Regions from separate parts of the Homo sapiens genome. Here all the other regions are linked to region 2. Evidence: fine-mapped expression QTL. A gene starts in region 2. Each other region holds a variant in brackets. All regions are shown on one strand. Distances are from middle to middle.

The links. PIP is the estimated chance that this variant, and not a neighbour inherited with it, causes the effect. A credible set is the group of variants that fine-mapping cannot tell apart.
Region 1: its variant is the best candidate, but not a certain one, in a credible set for the expression of SHROOM3 in sun-exposed skin (GTEx, PIP 0.54).
Region 3: its variant is the best candidate, but not a certain one, in a credible set for the expression of SHROOM3 in tibial nerve (GTEx, PIP 0.73).
Region 4: its variant is the best candidate, but not a certain one, in a credible set for the expression of SHROOM3 in cerebellum (GTEx, PIP 0.61).

What each region holds. Positions count from the first base shown.
Region 1 is chr4:76,620,806-76,625,959 of GRCh38, reverse strand. The region is part of intron 2 of SHROOM3 (shroom family member 3); the gene reads right to left. The region is part of intron 3 of LOC105377290 (a long non-coding RNA gene); the gene reads left to right. Among named protein-coding and RNA genes, the nearest start is that of MIR548AH, 48 kb to the right of the region's middle. The variant C/T (reference allele first, on the strand shown) is at 2,107.
Region 2 is chr4:76,432,714-76,437,867 of GRCh38, reverse strand. SHROOM3 (shroom family member 3) reads right to left here and starts at 2,639. Exons shown (of 11, transcript NM_020859.4): 1 at 1,648-2,639. The coding sequence starts at 1,815.
Region 3 is chr4:76,721,975-76,727,128 of GRCh38, reverse strand. The region is part of intron 3 of SHROOM3 (shroom family member 3); the gene reads right to left. All of the region lies in intron 2 of SHROOM3-AS1 (SHROOM3 antisense RNA 1), which reads left to right. Among named protein-coding and RNA genes, the nearest start is that of SHROOM3-AS1, 78 kb to the left of the region's middle. The variant A/C (reference allele first, on the strand shown) is at 3,072.
Region 4 is chr4:76,642,426-76,647,579 of GRCh38, reverse strand. The region is part of intron 2 of SHROOM3 (shroom family member 3); the gene reads right to left. LOC105377290 (a long non-coding RNA gene) reads left to right here and starts at 705. Exons shown (of 4, transcript XR_001741404.2): 1 at 705-2,759. The variant A/C (reference allele first, on the strand shown) is at 2,784.

The DNA of each region.
Region 1 (5,154 bases), 190 kb before region 2:
ACTCAATTGAGCCTTCAACAAATATGTGCTGTATAGCTACTGTATGCCAGGCACTGTGCTAGGCTCTAAGTATAATAGTGAGCGAGATGGAAACAGTCCTTGCTCACAAGTTGCTTAGAGTCTAAAAAGGAAGAGAGAAGTTTAAATACAATATGGTTAGTTATAGGGGTAGACAAAGACATGATGTCATGAGAATATTTGCCAGCCTTTAGAGAGGGGAGGATAAGCCTTCTAGTTAGAGAAGTAACACATAGGAAGAGGCAGAAAGTATGGTATGCTCAGGAACTGGACATGGTTCTCGGCGATTGGAGTGTGAAGTAGGAAAGGAAGGATGCTGTGGTCAGGTATGAGGCTGGAGAGAAACACTTCCTATATTGTGTGTAAATCTTGACTTTATCTTGATGAGATGTGAGCAATGAGGGCTTTAGGTAATGCAAGAAAAGACAGACAGAGGGAGAGGCTGGGTGGGAGGAGGGACTAAAGAGGGAGAAGGAGAGGGAGGGAAGTGAGGGGTTGAGGGAGAGGGAGGGAGACAGAAGATTGGTTATCACTGTTGAAAATGAAAAGATTTGTTTCATATCCCCAAAAGAAGAATGTTCTGTTGTATTTTATTTTGGCATAGCTGTATAAAACTAAGAAGCTAGCTATTTGGGGTTAGGTAAAAAATTTGAAAACAGAATATTTAAGGCCTATAGTTTCTCACCAGGATATTTTAAACTATGTTCAATAGCACCTATTAGAATTTACTTTGGGGCTGATGAAGCTGAAACTGTAACCATACTGCTATTGTAGTTTGGAAATGATTTTGGTTCCTGGCAAAGCAAAGATTTGGCTGATCATCTCATTTAACATGGGAACTACAGCCCAAAAGTACTGCATAAACTAGGAGTCTGGCATTAAAATATCTGCGCTCTCCTTATACAATTCAAGGGTACTTGAATTACCAAGCAAGGCTTACACAGGAACCTTTTCAATTCCAATAATAATATAATATCATTGTACTGAGGTTAATGAAGAAACAATAGGTCATAAAGGCAAAAATTATGAAGCATATGCTATTATTCTTTTTAACTCAGAAAAATACTAAAATCCATTGTAGACCACATCAAACAATTTTGTAAACATAGCAAGTCTTACCTGGCTTTAATTCAATCTTTCCAATGTTCAATATTATTAAATCCTAAAAGAATTTGAGGCAGCTCTGGAATATGCAACATATACACTCATATTAGTACAGATGTTAACACATTGATTCATTTCAGACACCTCTTTATAATTTCTGTTTGGCTTCTGAGGCACAGTCCCACTTTAAAAACACCACGATAACCACTCTTTTTAAAAACGTAACAGAGAGTCGCCAGATACCAGTATTCACGTGTAGTGGTAACTGCTGGGAATTCTCATGCCCCTCACCCACCCTTGGAAACCCGAATAACAAAACAGGACTCAAGGCCTTCTGAAATTACTCAGGCTGGAGCAAATGTTGCTCATGCTTCATCTCCCAGGAAACCTAAAAACTTCCCAAGAATGAAGTCACCACGGGAGCAAAGCAGGCAGCTGAGTGAACTCTGGAGCTCTAATGTACTGTCTTTTGTAGACAACAGCTCTTCGGTGTTAAAGCCACAAGACCAAGAGCAGACACAGCATCCAGAAGAAAACCTCTATTGGCAAGCACAAGACAGTGATCACAGATGTGGCCCCAGACGACGGAAGGACAGGAGTGCAGCACGCTGAAATGTCGGAATACTACACGCCTGCAATTGCCTTTCCCTCTGGCATTTAATGAGAAATAAAAAGCACATGTGAAGGTTTTATGATCATTTTAATTATGTGTTAAAAACACTATAGGTAACTCTTTTGGAATGTCCTTTTCTCTCCAACATAAGCGGATATTTGAAAAATATTTGGTTAGAAAAATTAAAATAACCTAAATTTAAAATCCATGTACAAGAATGACAAATACAAACATGATAGTGGTTAAAAGCAAAACAAAACTAAAATAGAATTTCTCTCAGAAATAAACCATCTCCACTGTATGCTTTAGAAAGAAAATGTAGAATCCTCAGTTATGGCGTATGAGTATGCAAGGAATATCTTTCTCCCCTT[C/T]CCCCGCCCAGATCTCTCATTTCAAATCCCAGGCGTGTTCATTCAATTCCACACTCTCAGCTCACACTGCTGAAAAATGCTTGGGTGTTTTGTGCAAATCCAAAGCTAAATAGGAAAGAGACAGAAAAAGATTTAGAGGCATAATAATCTTGAAAGAAAATAGTTCTGTATCATGTTTGTCAGTTAATGGGGAAAAAAAGTGCTTTAGGAAGTTTTAATTGAATAAGAACCTTTAAAATGTCATCTTTCTTCAAAGAAATATTTGTGCATATTGGATAAGAAAAATGTAGAATGTTCATGCTAACTCCTTGAAAAGAGCCAGATCATTTGGCCTATGTAGTAAATGGAGGATTCCGAGTGGTAGTCCAGTGCTTTCCTTGGAACCTCTGGCAATTAACTTTCTAGCTAGGAGTCAAGTTTTATAAACTGTTAAGTGACCAGGCAGACAGACTGGCTCTACAAGGTAATGTTTCCAATTTGACTCATGCTTATGGTCTTTGACTTTAAAAGTCATTTGTAGTCCAAGTGACACCAGACATTCTTAAAACTGGTATACTAAGGGATCAGCTTAGACTTTTGGATTTTGGTTGACTTTTTGCATTGTTGCCCACAGACTTGGTGCAGCAGGAGATACCTGTTATAGGGAAGAAGGAAGAAAGGAAGAGAAAAGAAAAGGAAAAGACCAAAATGCATCTCCTGGAAGCAAAATATCCCAAACTTGAAAGAGGAGTCACAACTTAAATCAAAAGCATGAAATGTGTTATAAGGAGGTCTTTTCCCTAAAACAAATATATTACTAAAACAGTAAACAGTGGTATGCTGTAAATCATAATCTTTTGCCTAATGCATTCCTAAAGTTTCATCCTAAGAGCAAACACCAGTGAGAAATGGACACTCAGGAACCCAGATAACTCAAAAGTTGGAAGGAAGCTGTCTGCAGTCATTTTCATTAAAGAGATAAGATCACCTGGCCCTCTTCAGTAGCTTTTACACTTAATGTCCCTCCCTCCCGACTCTCAAAGCTATAAACCTGAGAAGAAAAAACCCAGCTTTGCTTTTAGCCACAACTCTAGCAATTTAAGCAAAGACAGGGTAGGGAACAATAAAAATATTCATGGCCATCATGAAGATTTACCATAACACCCATTATACTTTCTTGGTGGAATTACTTCCCCGTGGCCTCCTTTCTTCAACCAAGGAAAAAATATGCCTTCCAAATTCCATTTTTTGTTCCTTCTTGAGCCAAAAATATAATCTATATTTGCTTAAAAGAGGGTTCTGGAAAGTGAAAGAGCCTTTATCTGCTTGTGAGAAATGGAATTAACTGAAAATCAAATGGAAACTTTGGTAGGAATACTATGGTGAATGGTTAAATATTTACAACATAAGAACCAGTTCGTTTGAAAACAAATGTACAAGTGCCTGGCTTCCTTCCCTGCCTCAGGAGTCAAGAATGTTCCGTTGCTGAGAAGGGCCATTTTATTGACATTCAAGTAAAAGATTTGGTTCCAGGAAAAGAAGGTAAGAGTGAATACAAGTGCTATGGTTCTACAAACTAGTATTGTACCAGATGAGTCCATGCTGATGAGGCTGTCCTTTAAAGATAAATTCACAAAGAAAAAGTGCCTAGGGGAAAATGAGTAATTCTGACATCAAGCATAGGAGTGCCCCTAGCACGACTAGGTCTAGTCGTCCAATTTCCCAAAACTAAATGGGATATAAAGAATGGAAGAACATTCAGCCGTGCGCAATCCCAGCACTTTGGGAGGCCGAGGTGGGTGGATCGCCTGAGGTAAGGAGTTCAAGACCAGCCTGCCCAGCATGGTGAAACCCCGACTCTACTAAAAATATAAAAATTAGCCAGGCGTGGTAGCAGGTGCCTGTAATCCCAGATACTTGGGAAGCTGAGGCAGGAGAATTGCTTGAACCCGGGATGTGGAGGTTGCAGTGAGCCGGAGATCGTGTCATTGCACTCCAGCCTGGGTAACAGAGTGAGACTCTGTCTCAAAAAAAAAAAAAAAAAGAACATTCAAACTGTCTCAGACCTAAAGAAAACGCTGGAACTATGTTATTTAGGCAACTGGGACCTGTATCTCATGCTGAATATGCAGTTCTGAAACAAGCAGCATAAACACTTACTCCATATTAGTTCAGATGTTAACACACTGATTCATTTCACACACTTCTTTGTAATTTCTGTTTTGTTTCTGAGGCACAACCCAACTTTGAAAACACCAGGACAACTACTCTTTATAAAAATGTGACAGAGGGTCTGTTTGTTCCCTAAGGTGGAAGGAAAAAGAAAGAATGATGGTGAGAAAATCAAGCTTCACCCAAACCACTGCCCTGCACATACAAATAAATAACCTCCAAGGCTCAATAGCCCAAGTTTGCTTTGGTGCAAAGGTGGTGGTTTGTGAACTAGAAAGGTGTGTAAAATAATTCCTATTAGCAATCCTTCTTTGTACTGTTTGTGTTTTCTCTTAATCAGCGTTAGTCCAGCCTCTCTGAAGGGACATGTTGGGCCTGCTGGGCTAATGTACCAGGTGACTCTGCAGCTCCTGATAGGGTTTCTGGAACAGTCTGATGATCACCTTAGCTTGTCATTCGGTAACTTCCTGGGACAGGTGTTAGCCCAGTGTGAGGCTCTCTGCAGTGCTGAGACTCTGCCCTTGACTGACAGGAAGTTTTTTGTTTTTTTTTTTAATACTTGGCAATAAAAGGCTCTTGGAGGTGGAAATGAAAAATCAATGGAGAAAACCACAGAAATCCCACTGAAACCAGCTTTACTTTTCTAGAGTCTTTCTGTTATAAGGGGCTGCTTCAGGTTTCCACATTTCCCTGGAGGGCAGGATGCTTAAGGGTTTTAATCCTAGTCCCTTCAGATCACATAATGGTGCTGATAAGGTGCTGTTCTGCTGACCCAGGGAAAAGTGCCCCTTCATCCTTTCATCTGCTTCTGGGTAGAAGTGACTGTTGAATGATTTAAAAGAGTCATTAAAGAGTGGAGAAATGCCTCCTCACTACAATGAAAGACTGAACGTTACA
Region 2 (5,154 bases):
TCATTAAGGGACAGGCAAATTGTGTACAACTAGACTTTTTAAATGCCGAGACAATATTTATGTTCATTGCAGAATTATCTGTTATTCAGCAACCATGCCCTCTTTCTTCCTGCAAAAAGAACCTCAAATCATTCAAACAGTGGGCAATGATTCCTTGACTTCAGGAAGAGTAGGTCCTTATTGTAGAAACCTGTGAAAGAAATCCTAATCAGTCTGTATTAATCACTGGCATTTCTTACCAGTGATTGGCCTAAAGACAGGCACAGGGTACAGTTCTGGTTAATGAGATGAAAGCAAAGGTCTAATGAGAAACAAAAAGCCAAAAACCTGTCTGGAATGAAGATGCAATCAATGCTGGAGTTGTGGGATCCATCATGCAACCATGAAGACAAAGCCAACATCATAAGAATGGCAGAGTGGAGAGATAAGTGGGGTCCTTGATCACATTATTGAGCTGCTGCTCCCCTTGCCTGGAAAATCTACCTCCAAACTTCTTGTAATATGAGAAAAACAAACCCCAATTTACTGAGAGCCACTATAAACTCGGTTTTGAATTTTTTTCACAGGGGGAAGCCTTCCTAACTGACACACACATATGCACATCCTTTTGTTTTACTTAAGAAAGTTAAGGAAAAGTCATACAACTTATAATGGTGTCCCGTGCACTCGTGGCTTATCACTGTGAAACCCAGTTCTCCCTGGCTCATCCACAGTAAGAATTACTTCAGTAATTTGAAAAATAACCTTTTGGAATTATTTCTGGGGATATGAAAAGTAACCTGAACCAATAACAGAGCTCAAATGCAATCCATATTACCTTCTTCCCACCCTCAAATTAAAAATTTTTTCTCCCTTAATTACAAATGTTTCTTGATGAATGCACATGTGTGAAAAGCCATTATAATCTATTGTATCAGACTATTAAATACTCTAAAAATTTAAAAGCAATATTATAACAAGTAATGTTAATCTGTAGTTTAAGAGAAAAATAGAAATATTAACCCCAGTACATAAATATTTCATTGGTATGACTACCCACACCAAAAGATAAATGAAGAATTGAGGTATGCTGCAGGATGACTAAGGTTTAAAAAGGGATTCAAATATACAGATAAATAGGAGAGGCAGAAATGTTTTGATCTTGAGTTATGCTGAAAGCTGATTTAATTCTCCTTTCTGAGTGTGGGGAAAAAAAGCAACACATGGTATTTATGCAATCTATTATCCAGAATTATAAGCAAACTTAAAATATTTTTAGATGCTATTTTCAGTTGAAGAGAGAAAAAGCAGATATTTTTGAATGCACAAATATATACCATGCCACCATCTTAACCATGTTATTAATCTTTAATCTGATTTATAACTGAAAAGCTCATGTGGTAACTGATTGTATGCGATTTCATTCACAAAAAGAGAAGATTATCCATCAAACAGGCATATTTTTCTTCGGATTTCATAGAATAAATGAGCTAGACACATTTTTCTTTCAAATCCCAGGCTATCCAAAATATTTCTAGATAATCAGAAAGGCATGAAACAGCAAATTAAGTTATATTAAGGCAGTTCTCATTATTTTGCATTTTTGACAAATCTGACAAGTTGAAAAAAACAATTTGAATAAAGGCAATATTGGAAAAAGAAACATACCTTAGAGATGATTAATGGTTCTCCGTGCTCCAGGCCACCCTTTAGAGTAAAACCCCAGGGAGCTCCTCCCTCCAGGAATGCCTCCAGATAAATGTACCTTCCCTTGGTGGCCGTGTTAGAGTTTAATGTGGCACTAGGCTTGTGGAAGTCTTCAGTGGTCCTCATCATGCCAAACACATGATCCCTCAAGTTAAATTTAAAATGCCTGAAGCAAACTCAGGCAAGCAGTGCTTCTACAGCACAAGTTGTCCCATCCTTCAGGACACACAATGGCCAAAAGAGAGGTTTGGAGAAGCAAATTCTTCCATACGTAAAATGTTCTTCCAAGCTGAACTCCAAGATGCTGAACCAGAAGGAATTTTCACTTCAACATTTCTGAATGTAAATCCTCCTCCAGGAATTCTGGGTTCTCACTGAAGCCCCCAAGTGGTATACATCTCTACTCCGTTCGTCAAAACTTCCTTCAGTGGCGCTCTGAAGATTGCTTTTCTGAGCTTTTATTTCACACATACACACACTAAAACCATTTCTGCCTATTTTACAGAGAAAATTAAAAGCATCTTACAATATAGTAAGAAAATCACAAATACTCAAAGGAATACCTCATTTTTGATTGATTATCAACCCTTTCTTCCTCTCGGAGTGAAATTTACCATTACAATAGCCTCCTCCCTCCCCAGAAGTAGCTTAAAAAGAAAGAAAGCACTTACTATGCTTCGGCTCACTTCAGAATTTTCTAACTTGTCCCGAAGAGACAGAGAAGCTGTGCTAAAACTTTTTACTTCTTTTTTTCAACAATCAGTTCATAGTTTGTTTCTTAGGAGAGAAAAAAACTTTTGCAGGATGTAGAGAAAATGAAAAAGCACGGTAAATTAATCCTCAATGGAAAAAATATGAAGGAGGCAGCTCAGTTCTTTTCTTTGGTATTTTCAGTGATGATCAGCCACTGCTGCGGCCGCCACAGCCACTTGCCTCCTCTTGAGAGAAAGAGTAAGGAAGTTAGAGGAACATGGATTAAGGCAAAGTGAGGCATTGCAACCTTTCTGCACAGTAAGCACTGCCATGCAGAATTCAGCTCACCACAAAGACCTGACAATTCAAACAGTCTTACAGTTAATAACACGTAGGAAGTTAAAAATACTATACAGATGGCTAATTGCCAAGGGATAGAAAATAGTTCCTAGAATAGCCCCGCCTCGTACCAATTAAAGGAGAATTTCAGGGAGTGAGACATAGGCATTTGTGTTTTTAAAAACCCTCCAGGCAATTCTGCTATGCAGCCAAGTTTGAGAAGCAATGCCTAAGTGATTTGGGTAAACGTTTAAGTACATGTCAAGGTGGTGGCACAAGGGCTTTTTTTTTTTCGTTAGAAGAAAATACTACCAGTGTAATATATGAAATGGGACTTTCCAATCAAAGTTCTGCTTGTTTGACTCAATAAAAACAGGAGGTGGGTTTTTTTTTCTAGGTTTTCATTGTTATCTACTCCAAGATTGTTATCCACTCTTTAAATGAAAAGAAATCTACAATGCCTTGTGGGTAAGTACTAGGTACTCGGGAAAGAATGTTGTTCTGATTTCATGTTACCAGTGTCATTTTGTAATAATGTTATATACAAATTTAACATTCATGCTTTGTATTAAAAATTTGAACAGTAGAAGATAACCATATCTAACCCAGAAGCCTCAGCTATTTAGTTATTGGAACAGATTAGAATTACTTCCAGGTAATATATGTACTAAAACTTTTTTCTGTTTAAAAGTATGGGATAATGAGAATTAAGTTGAAAACTGAAGTTAAAAACTACTGTGGGGCTTGATAACAATTATTTTGGTGTTTGTACTTATAATTAATGAAAGGCTGATATGGAAAGGCAGGTATATGATATCAAACTACACGATATTTAATTTACAACACTGGACAGGTATTGTTTGATTTTCAATGGTAACTTCACTTGAAGGGCTCAAAGACAAAAAAAAAAAAAAAAAAGTAAAACCTTATGTAATGGTAGTATGTGAATGGAAACATAAGGAAACCTAAGGTGTACCAAATGAAAGTATGTGGTAAAAATTGGCTGATTCTTAAGGGTAATTTACGCAATTTCTATTGTGGTTTTCTTTTACAGCTTAATTTGTAAGTTAGAATAAATGGAGAAACATTAGCTTTTCTTTCATTTCAAAGAACATATGTATTTTAAATAAAAGTCCTAGGTAAATGAACAGCTTTCTTTCTGAAAAAATTAATTTATGAGGCTCTTATTATGTTACTCCTAATACATTTTGTAAAAACTGGGATTTTACAGAATCCACATTTAATATTAAAAGTAACATAGCTATACAAAATTTCAGTTAGGAGGCATAAGCTCAAGAGATCTATTGTACAGCATGATGACCATAGTTATAACAATGTATTGTATATTTGGAAATTGCTAAGATTAGATTTTAAGTGCTCTCACCACAAAAAAAATTAGTATGTGAGGTAATAGGTTAATTCCTTGATTTAGCCATTTTACAATGCATACTTATATCAAAACATCATGTGGTACACCATAAGTATATATAATTTTTAGTTGTCAATTTAAAAAATAATAAACAAAAAAAGTAATGAAGCTAAAGGCAAAGGAAATAAGGAAAAGATAATATGAACCCAGTGCTTGCAGACTGATGAAATCTCCATTTTAGATTATCACCAAAAATATTGAAGAAACAAACATAGAACCAAAATTGATATGTAATCTGAAAAAAAAATGTAAAACTTCATTTTGTGGACCTTCACTATAGCAGTTGATAGACCAGGTTTGGAAGAACTTTTTTCCTCCATCTTCTGTTGATCAGATTCAAAGAATGTTAAAGCTGCAAGAGACAATCCTCCCACACCCTTGATTTTAGAGGTAAGGACACAGAGGCCACCAGAAGGTTAAATGATCTGACCAGAGTAATCCTGCAAGCAACACAGGCAGGCATGAAATTTAAATCTTCAGACGTTTAGGAATGAAATCCTAGCTTAAGTCAGGTGTTCTGCATAGTTTACGGTGAAAAGACAACTTTCTTTTGGCATAGCACTGCTAATTCGTAAGAAGAACTTCTGTTAGGATATGTGATTTGGATGCAAACTCTTAATTACAGAATGCAATCAGACTCCTCCCCAAGAAGAGAAAGGCAACTCTATTGTCTCAAGGTGCTGACAGTGGAAAGAAAGGTTGGGATTCTAACTGAGAACAGCATAGGACTCAGGCTTTCTAATAGAGGACTTCTTTTATGCCCCATTCATCATCTTTCTAGGGAACCACTTCTTCCTCGATCCTGTGGTGCTGGTGGGCTGCCCCTGTCCCCGGCTCCAGGGTGGACGTAATGACCCAGGAATCAACCAACCCCTGGCTCAAATGATTGATATGTGGATGGGCATGAGACTTAAGTGTGACCAATGTTATAACTAGAAATTTTACTAGTGCTGTCAAAAAATGGCATTTTCTCCTATGGTTTGCTAGGTTGGTAGATAAAATTTTTG
Region 3 (5,154 bases), 290 kb before region 2:
GTCATCTTCCTACTGCTCATTCCCACTACTTAGTGAAGGGAGTTGGCAGAATCACTCTCAGTAGTAGAAATTAGCCCCGGGACTGGGTATTGGCCTTGAGAAGCCAATGGACACCAATGGACCGTGACCTCAGACCAGCACCACGTGACACTAAGGACGGCTCTTCAGTGGCATCATCACCCAACAGTATCTGTCCATGCCTAGCTAGATGCCGAGAAGATTTTCCCACCCAAGAGAAATAGAAAGTGATAAATTCCACAGGCTCCACAGGAAAAAAGATGTCTTCCTGTCAAGGAGATGAGGTGTGAGACAACGTTTACTGATAACTTCAGGGGTTCCAGATAGGCCCTCTAGTTTGCTTGTGCCTATAAGCTGAGTTACTTGGGAGGCTGAGGCAGGGGGCTCAATTTTTTTTTTAATTAGCTGGGTGTGGTGGCATCCACCTGTAGTCCCCACTACTCAGAGGCTGAAGCAGGAGAATCACTTGAACCCAGGAGTTTGAAGCTGTAGCGAGCAATGACTGTGTGCCACTGCATTGCAGCTTCCAGAGAGACAGTCTCTTAAATTTTTTTTTTTTTTTTTTTTTTAGATGGAGGGGATGGGAGTGGAGAGAGAGAAGAGGAAATAAGCAGGATGCTGATGGCTCATTCTGGGGCATGCGAATGAGTGCCTGTGGGACTTTCAGTGGAGAAGGACTAGAGGACTGAGGGCTGGGCTGCATATAGAAATTTACAAGTCACAAAACACAGGGCCTTTGAGAGAAGATAAGTGACTTGAGGAGAATGAACAGGGAGACAAAGGAAATGATTTAAGGATGAGTCTCTGAGAATGATCAAAATTTAGGGGAGAGGGAGCCTGGGAAAAAGCCCAAGAGGAGCTTCCACAGAAGGAGGAGGAAAACAAGTTAAGTATGGGAGTCTCACAGATTTCTAGTGGGGAGAGTGAGGAGGAGGAGGAAACTGTCAACCACTGCAATGCTGTAAAGAGGTTAGTGTGATGAGGGTAGATGCATGGCCACTGGATTTGGCAACTAGCAAGTCCTTGCAATGGCATGCTTTAGGATGGGGCTAAAGGTGAACAAGGGATAAGACAGGCAGTATGGGCAGATGATTCCTTCAAAAACCTGTTTCTAAAGGGGAGAAGAGGGTGGTAGCTAGAAGACTGAAGGGATCCAGGGAGTGAAAAGGTTTTGTTCCTAATGTTTTTGTTTTAAATGAGAAGTTCAAGCAAGTGTCTATAAGGCAGAGAGCGTGCAGAGGCCCATCTGAAGACACAGGACACAGGAGGAGGACTCCTTAAAGACTCAGGAAGGGATGGGATTCAAACACTCAGGTGAAGGGTATGAGCTTATGGAGGAGGAAAGCCAGTGCTGTTGAGATAGAAGAAAGGTGGATGCTGGCAAATGTGAAAGCAAGTAGGTAGCACGAAAAGTTGAGGGGACCTCGTACCCAATGTCCTCTGTTTTCATGATGAACCTAACCTGGAAGAGGGAGAAGTGAGGGAGGTGACACACGGGATCGGGCTCCAGGGATGTGGTACATGAGGACTAGAAGAGTTGAAACTGATATTTAAAAATATTTAATTATCCTTATCTCATCACTATACATTATTTGTACTGAAACATCATTATGTACCCCATAAATATGTACAATTAAATGTCCATTTAAGAAAATAAAAAATTAAACAAATTTTAAAGAGATATTTTAAAGAAATAATGACTAAGATATTGTCTCTGCCTTTAAGGAGCTTACATTCTGCAGGAAAGAGCAAATGAAATAATTCCTACAGTACAGATAAAATAAGTGCTTTAGAAAGTAGGTCCAATACCTGCAATACAAAGACAGCAAACTCAACTTTGGAGCTTTTACTTTGGAGGAGGTTGGAGAGGTAACTATTTATTTGCCCTGGGCAGAGTATCAGGTTTCATCACAGTTCTAATAGATTAAGAACAAGATGACAGGATGATTTTGGCGGTGGGGGTGGGGAGGGGGAAGCAAATCAAAAGGCCCTGAAAAAAACAAAAACACGAGGAAAAAAAAACAAAAAACAACTTTTCTTTTAGATGCAGAAGATATGTTGGGAGAGGGCTTCGGAGATAAATCTTTGTTTTATAAGATTCTTCCATACCGTACAGATAGGAGGTAAGTGATGAAATAAGCGAAGAATTGAAAAGGATGACCAAAAATAGCCCACCAGTGTATATCAGTACAACCTGAATGAAGGCCAGTTTGACAACATCTAGCAAATGATTTTTAAAATAACATACCCATCAAAAGATTGGAAGACAACCTAAATGCCCATTAGCAGCAGACTAGTTAACTCAGTGTGGTATATCCATATAATGGCTGTTAAAAAGGATGAAGTATCTCTATACATACTGATATGGAAATATCTCCAAATATATTGTTACACTGGAAAGATGCAGAATTACATGTACAGTCTGCTACAGTATGTGGGGAAAATCACATGTGTGTATATTAACGTAAAGAGTAGTTTTGGAAGGACACTTAAGAAACTAGATACAATGACTGCCTCTGGGAAGGAAAACTTATTTTCACTGTATTTCATTTTGTAACTTTTCAAATTTTATACTATACGCATGTATTACCTATTGAAAAGCAAAGTATTTTTAAAATAGTCTTTCATTTTGAAAATACAATTCACTGTAGCTTGAGAGTTAAAAAAAAAAAATTAAACAGCTATTTTTTCAGTTAAACAGCTGACTTTCTCAATGATGCGAAACATTTAATAAGCATTCCTAAAGAGCATGGCATACTAATTTTACATTTTGGGATCACTTTGATCTTTAAGAACTTAAAGAAATATTTTCCTAAAGTACATCACATCATGAGCATATCAGTAAGTCAGAAGATGGTTTAATTTTAAAATTTAGCAAACTAAGTTTTGTGTGTGGGTGTAATTCAAACAAAGCCCTTTTGTTGCATTCCTAACCACAAACAAGGAAGCTTAACTGCGTGGGATGGGTAGGCTGATGAAACTGGAATTCGCAAGTGACATGATGTCCTTCTTAGATGATTTTGCCCTAACACAGAGAGATTCAGGAATGCAAA[A/C]CAAGTTTCTGAGAAATCTACAGTAAGTTCAGTATTTTAAGCAGTATTCACTAATCACCTATGTGCCTTCAACCTTGTTAAATTATAGTTGGAGCTCTGCAAGGTCTTGGAAGGCCTAAGAGTTTATAATCTTGCTGGGGAGGCTCAGATGCAAGAAAAACTATTAAACAAAGTCAGAGCATCATTCATTCACTCAAAAAATATTTGAGTGCCTACTGAGTGCCAACCACCATTCTAGGCACTTGACGAGTATTTTCTCACTTAGCCTTTATATTACCTTTATGATACAGGACTATTAATGAGGAAAGTGAGGTAAATACAGAATAAACAATGTGTTCACTGTCACAAATGTAGTGAGCAGCACAGCTACTAAACCCAGGCATCTCTCTCCAGAGCCTGTGCTTTTAATTTGCAAGTAAGGAGCACTGTGCAATGAGGTGGGAGAGGCAGAGGAGGGAGACAGGGAGTAAGCAAGTAAGCAAATCAAACAAGATATTCTCATATAGTTATAAGGGTTCTGAAGGAAATAAAACTGGGTAATGTGAGAGTGTGATGGAAAGTCCCCATTTAAGTCAGAGACAGCCTCTATGAGCAAGTGACATTCAAACCAAGACCTAAATGATAAGAAATAATTAACCATGCAAAGAGCTAGGAGAAGAATATATAGCTCCAAAGGAAAAATGAATGCAAAATCCTTGAGAGGAGGAATGAGTTTGGGTTTTTAAAGAATACAAGAGAGTATAGCCAGAGCCTTGTGAGTGAAGAGCAGATGGTATAAAATTCAGATCATATTGGGCCACCGAGGCTGTAGAGGCATTTTGGATACAAAAAGCTCACATGAATGGGGTCTGAAGTCAGCCAGAAGGCTTAGTAGTACAGTGGGACTTCAGATGACCTTGAAAGATTGGTATGCTTTGGATAAATGGAGAAAGTGACAACTATTAGTTGGAAAATAAAAAATTCTAAGAACTAATTTTTTTGTTGATGCTATTCTTTAACGAACTGTTATGACACATGTTGCATGGGCTCTTCTCGGTGCAGTGTTATAAAACTCTGCCAGTTATCAACTGGACCCGAGTCAAGTGTATAAGAATACAAAATATACTCAGACTACCAGCACCACAAAATAAAAGTTACCATATTTCTTAAACCCCTTACTAACCCATCAACCTCTCCATCCATTATTGTTTAGTGCGCAATACTATGAGACAAAGTCCATCATAAGAAAGTTCTAATCAAACACCCCCATATCCCCCAAAAAAGAAACAAAATACATCAATATATTCTGCAAATTAGGTCTATTAAATTAAAATTTCAAATATTTGAATTGTAGATCTTCATCATATTCTTATTGAACACTGTGCTTAGCTGGGGATAAAGCACTGGTTTTTTTTTTAACTTTAATTTTAGGGGTACACATGCAGGTTTGTTATATAGGTAAGCTTGTGTCATGGACTGGGGGTGTTATATAGATTATTCCATCACCCAGGCACTAAGCCTAGTACCCAATAGTTATGTTTTCTGATCTTCTCTCTCCTCCTACCCTTCACCCTCAAGTAGGCCCCAGTGTGTGTTGTTCCCTTCCATATGTCCATGTGTTCTCATCATTTAGCTCCCACTTATGAGAACATGCAGAATTTGGTCTTCTGTTCCTGCGTTAGTTTGCTAAGGATAATGGCCTCCAGCTCCATCCATGTTCCTGCAAAAGACATTATCTCATTCTTTTTTACGGCTGCATAGTATTCCATGGTGTATAGGTAGCACATTTTCTTTATCCAATCTGTCATTGATGGCCCTTTAGGATGATTCCATGTCTTTGCTATTGTGAATAGTAAAGCATTGTTTTTAAAGATTCTTTTTACATGCCACTGCTGTTTTTCCCCATTTTTCCTCATGTATTTTTAAAATTATGAAATCGTTTTTTGAGGCAGGGTCTCACTCTGTCACCCAAGCTGGAGTGCAGTGGCATGATCATAGCGTACTGCAGCCTTGAACTCCTGGGCTCAAACAATCCTCCCATCACAGCCTCCTAAGTAGCTAGGACTATAGCACGTACCCCTATGCCTTGCTTATGAAACATTTT
Region 4 (5,154 bases), 210 kb before region 2:
CCAGTTGATTTCTATTTATTTTTATTAATACATAATATATGTACATAGTTATGGGATACATGTGATATTTTGTTACATGCATAGAATGTGTAATGATTAAGTTGGAGTATTTACGGTATCTATCACCTGGAGTATTCATCATTTCTACGTGTTGGGAGTTTTTCAAGTCTCTTTTCTAGCTACTGTGAAATACACAATACATTGTTTTGAACTATAGTCACCCCACTCTGCTGTCGAACATTAGAGCGTATTCCTTTAACTGTAAGTTTGTACCCATTAACCAACATCTCTTCATCACCACCACTCACCCACTTACCCTTCCCAGCCTTTAATATCTAACACTCGACTCTCTACCTCCCTGGGATCAACTTTTTTAGCCCCCACATATGAGTGAAAACATACGATGATATTTGTCTTTCTCTACCTGGCTTATTTCACTTAACGTTAAGAACCTCTAGTTCCACCCATGTTGCTGCAAATGACATGATTTCATTCTTTTTTATGGCCAAATAGTATTCCACTATGTGTATATACATTTTCTTTATCCTTTTGCCCGCTGATGAACACTTAGGATTCCATATCTTGCTATTGTGAATAGCGCTCAAAATGTGAGTGCAGGTATCCCTTTGATATACTGATTTCTTTTCCTTTGGATAGATACCCAGTAGTGGGATTGCTGGCTCAAAGGGTAGTTCTATTTTCAGTTTTTCGAGAAATTGCCATACTATTTTCCACAGTGGCTGGACTAATTTACGCTCCCACCAACAGTGTATAAGAGTTGCCTTTTCTCTGCATACTTACCAACATGTGTTATTTTTTGTGCTTTTCATAATTGCCATTCCATGACTGGTTGATTTCTTTACAAACTTTCCAGAATAAAGTTCCTTAATTTCCCCTGCTTTTAAAGAATTGGATGAAATCTTAAGCTTAGCACATCTAATAGAAGTAGACCATCAAGAGCAAGGTAAGTGGCTGTCCTTATCTAGTCTTCCCTGAAGTACCGTGTTATGTGATAAATGTCACAGTCTGAGAGCAACATGGACAATTTAGGGCATATCAAAGAAGAGGGACCTTAACAGTCCAAAATGCTAGATCATGACATGGGAATAATAGGTGAAGATTGAATTAAAGACCTTAACCTGGAAAAGAAACAATTTGGCAAGGAAATGGTGACTATTCTTAAAGATTGGAAGGTGGTAAAGTATAAAAACTATTCGATGTTTTCTGTTTGGTCTAAGAAGGATGAAAGAATTGAAGTTTTGGGACAGCAGATATGGAGTTACCATAAAGAAGAACACTGTTGCAATTCAACAGGTTCTTTTTTTTAATTTTATATATATATATATATATATATTTATTTATTATACTTTAAGTTCTAGGGTACATGTGCACAACATGCAGGTTTGTTACATATGTATACATGTGCCATGTTGGTGTGCTGCACCCGTTAACTCATCGTTTACATTAGGTATATCTCCTAATGCTATCCCTTCCCCCTCCCTCAACGGGTTCTGAAAATGAAATAGTCTGCTTTCCTACTTAGTGAGTTCACTTTCCTTGACTGTGTTCAGATGGAAGCTAGTTGCCCACTTTGGGGGACTGTTGGAAAATGTATCAGAGAAGAAATGGAACTTCTTAAATCTTCGGTCCCCTTCTCACCCTGAAGTTCTATGAAGATGCCTATTTTGGGGAGTATGAGGCAGGCTAAGTAACCCTTATCTGAAATTCTTGGAAGAAGAAGTGTTTTGGATTTGGGATTTTTCCAGATTTTGGACTATTTGCATGTATATAATGAGATATCTTGAGAATGGGATCAAATATGAATGGTTTTAAGAATCTAGGTCTGTGGGGTTTTTCTTATATGTCTTTGTATTGGCTTTCCTAGCACACAGCTAAGGAAACAATTACTTTATTTCATTAAAAGAGGCAGTATATTAAAGCAGTCTAGTTTATTTAGACAAAAACCCACACAAAGCAAACAAAAAACCAAACTCCTTTTAAGGATGTTCTCCCAGAATTATCTATCTATGCTCATCTACTTAAATAGGCTCTTTTGAAATTTCTGCATGTGTTGTGCTGGGTGGGGTAGATACAACCTTTCTGTGGCCATCGTGCTGCCCAGGTGGGACGTGGAGACCACCACTTCACCCAAGGTGGTCGACAGCTCCACTCATGGCGTCCATCAGCAGTAGAGACACTAAATGAGGTTCGAGTCCTAGGAGGCATCCTCTGGGGATGTTGAGGGTCAAACTCGAGGCTAACAGTGACCGGTGGGGAGAGGCTGGAGAGAGAAACAGCCGAAATGAAGCTGCTCCTTCAGACAACTCCCTGCTTTCTGCTGCTAGTTGAGCCACAGAGATAAGTGGTAGGGCTTATCTTTATTGACTTTTACACCATGGTTGACTGCATAATGCTATGGAAGCCACTTCATATTAATTAGTTTAGGTAAAAGACTTGTAAAAGAGATAAAGAGACAGTGTGGTGTAAATATACAGGCTTTGGAGTCAAAGAGCCAGGGTTCAAGTTCTGACTTTCTAACTGTATGACCTTGAGCAAGTAAATTACTTAATCTCTCTAGGCCTCAGTCTCCTTATCTGTACAATGGAGCTAGGAATAGTTGCTGGCTCATAAGTGCTACATAAGTACTACATAAGTACTAGCTTTTCTTGTTTTCACAGAAACAGAAAACTGAACCCCATTTGAACTTGCTTCTCCTTAAGTCCTGTCCAAGACACAAAAGGAACAAAAATGGCATTGAGGTAAGAATCTAGGTCACATCAGAT[A/C]TGTTGCTCTGGTAATTGCAAAAGAACGTGAATCCAGATGAAATGATGCTGAAAGTGAAAGTGAATCCTATATAACTTTTAAAGGAAATAATATAAAAGTGTATATCCTTGCTAATTACCCTGATTTGATTATTACACAATGTATACATGTATCAAATCATCACATTGTATCCCTTAAATATATGTAATTATTATGTTTCAATTAAAAATAAAAGTTAAAAAAAAAAAACCCCGTATGTCCTGACATGGAAAGCTGTCCTATTTATTAAATTAAAAAGCTTGTTACGGTAGGCCGAGGTGGGCGGATCACCTGAGGTCAGGAGTTCGAGAACAGCCTGACCAACATAGAGAAACCCTATCTCTACTAAAAATACAAAAAATTAGCCAGACATGGTGGCGCATGCCTGTTATCCCAGCTACTCGGGAGGCTGAGGCAGGAGAATTGCTTGAATCCGGGAGAGAGGTTGTGGTAAGCTGAGATGATGCCATTGCACTCCAGCCTGGGCAACAAGAGCAAAAACTCTGCCAAAAAAAAAAAAAAGAAAAAGAAAAAGCATGTTACAAAACAGTATGATCACCTTTTGGAAAAAAGGATTACTATTGACATAAATGATGGTAATACAGCAGCCTATATATATAAAAGAAAAGAGGTGGGCTGGGTGTGGTGGCTCATGCCTATAATCCCAGCACTTTGGGAGGCCGAGGAGGGCAGATCACCTGAGGTCAGGAGTTTGAGACCAGCCTGACCAACATGGTGAAACCCTGTCTCTACTAAAAATACAAAATTAGCCAGGCGTGGTGGCACATGCCTGTAATACCAGCTACTTTGGAGGCCGAGGCAGGAGAATGGCTTGAACCCAGGAAATCGAGGTTGCAGTGAGCTGAGAACGTGCCATTACGCTCCAGCCTGGGCAACAAGAGCAAAACTCCGTCTCAGATTAAAAAAAAGAAAAGAGCTGGAGGAATTTCTACCCAACAGTAAATAATGATTTGGGGGTAGGAGGATAATTAAGATTTCATGGGATATTCACTGTATATCTGTTATTTCTGTAAGATTTGAATTTTTATAACAAATACTAATTTTTAAATGAGAAAAATCAGTGTTTAAAAGGCAAAATAAGAAACATTATCCTATTACAGATTTTAAATTTTACTATATACTGATAACCTTAAACTGTGTGTGAGTAGGCAATTAACGATGATAGGAAAATGGATGCAGGAAATGCTTCTCTGGTCTCCTTTCAAAATGATAACAAACATCACTGTTTAGAACCCCTTTCATCATACCTTAAATCTTCCCATGAACCTGCTGAAGCAGGCATTTGTGGTTAATATTTGGGCCTTGGCAGACTTACATCCTGGTCTGAATCCTGTCTCTCTGTCTTATAACTGTATGACCTTGGGCAAGTGCTTTAATTGCTCTGTGCCTCAGTTTATCTGTCAAGTGGGGCCAATAATAATACTACAAAGGGGTGTTCTGAGGATGAATTGAGCTACTGTTTGTAAAATGCCTAGAACAGTGACTGGCATTTAACAAACACCTAATAAAGAGTTTAGCCATCATTCTTTTTTTTTTTTTTTTTTTGAGACAGCATCTCAAAAAATGGCACGATGGAGTACAATGGTGCAATTTCGGCTCACCACAAGCTCCATCTCCCAGGTTCAAGCAATTCTCCTGCCTCAGCTACTGTAATCCCGAGTAGCTGGGATTAAAGGCATGCACCACTACGGCCGGCTACTTTTGTATTTCTAATAGAGATGGGGGTTTCTTCATGTTGGTCAGGCTGGTCTTGAACTCCCTACCTCAGGTGATCTGCCCGCCTCGGCCTCCCAAAGTGCTGGGATTACAGGCATGAGCCATTGCTCCTGGCCCATTCTTTTAACCTCATTTAGAGAGAAAACTCTGGATACAAATGATACATTAATCTCAAATCTCCCCTCCCCCACAAATACTCCAGAATCCTAACATTTATTCCCACTACCCTCCTCCCCCACCCAGATCAGCATTTTGTCACACACTCATGGGTATTGGCTTCCATTCCTTCATAGAGCCCTTGTTCCTGGCACCTCATGCTCTAACCTATTACCTAGATTCAGTTCTTTTGAATTTTCCTTTTATCTCTTTACAGTTCGGCTTAAATGGCTTCAGTGGTTTCCCATTGCCAAAAGTTTAAATTTCAAACAACTTTGTTTGTCCCTTCACACATTGGCCTCATCCTGCCACTATGGTCCATTCACTATTCCCCAAGAACCACAAGAGCATTCCTAATCCTGAGCCTTTGCCTCCAGTGACTGGCCTCCTCCCAACCTGCTTAATCCCATCATCTCAAAATCCCAGTGGCGTCATACTGCATATTCAAGAAAGCTGTCA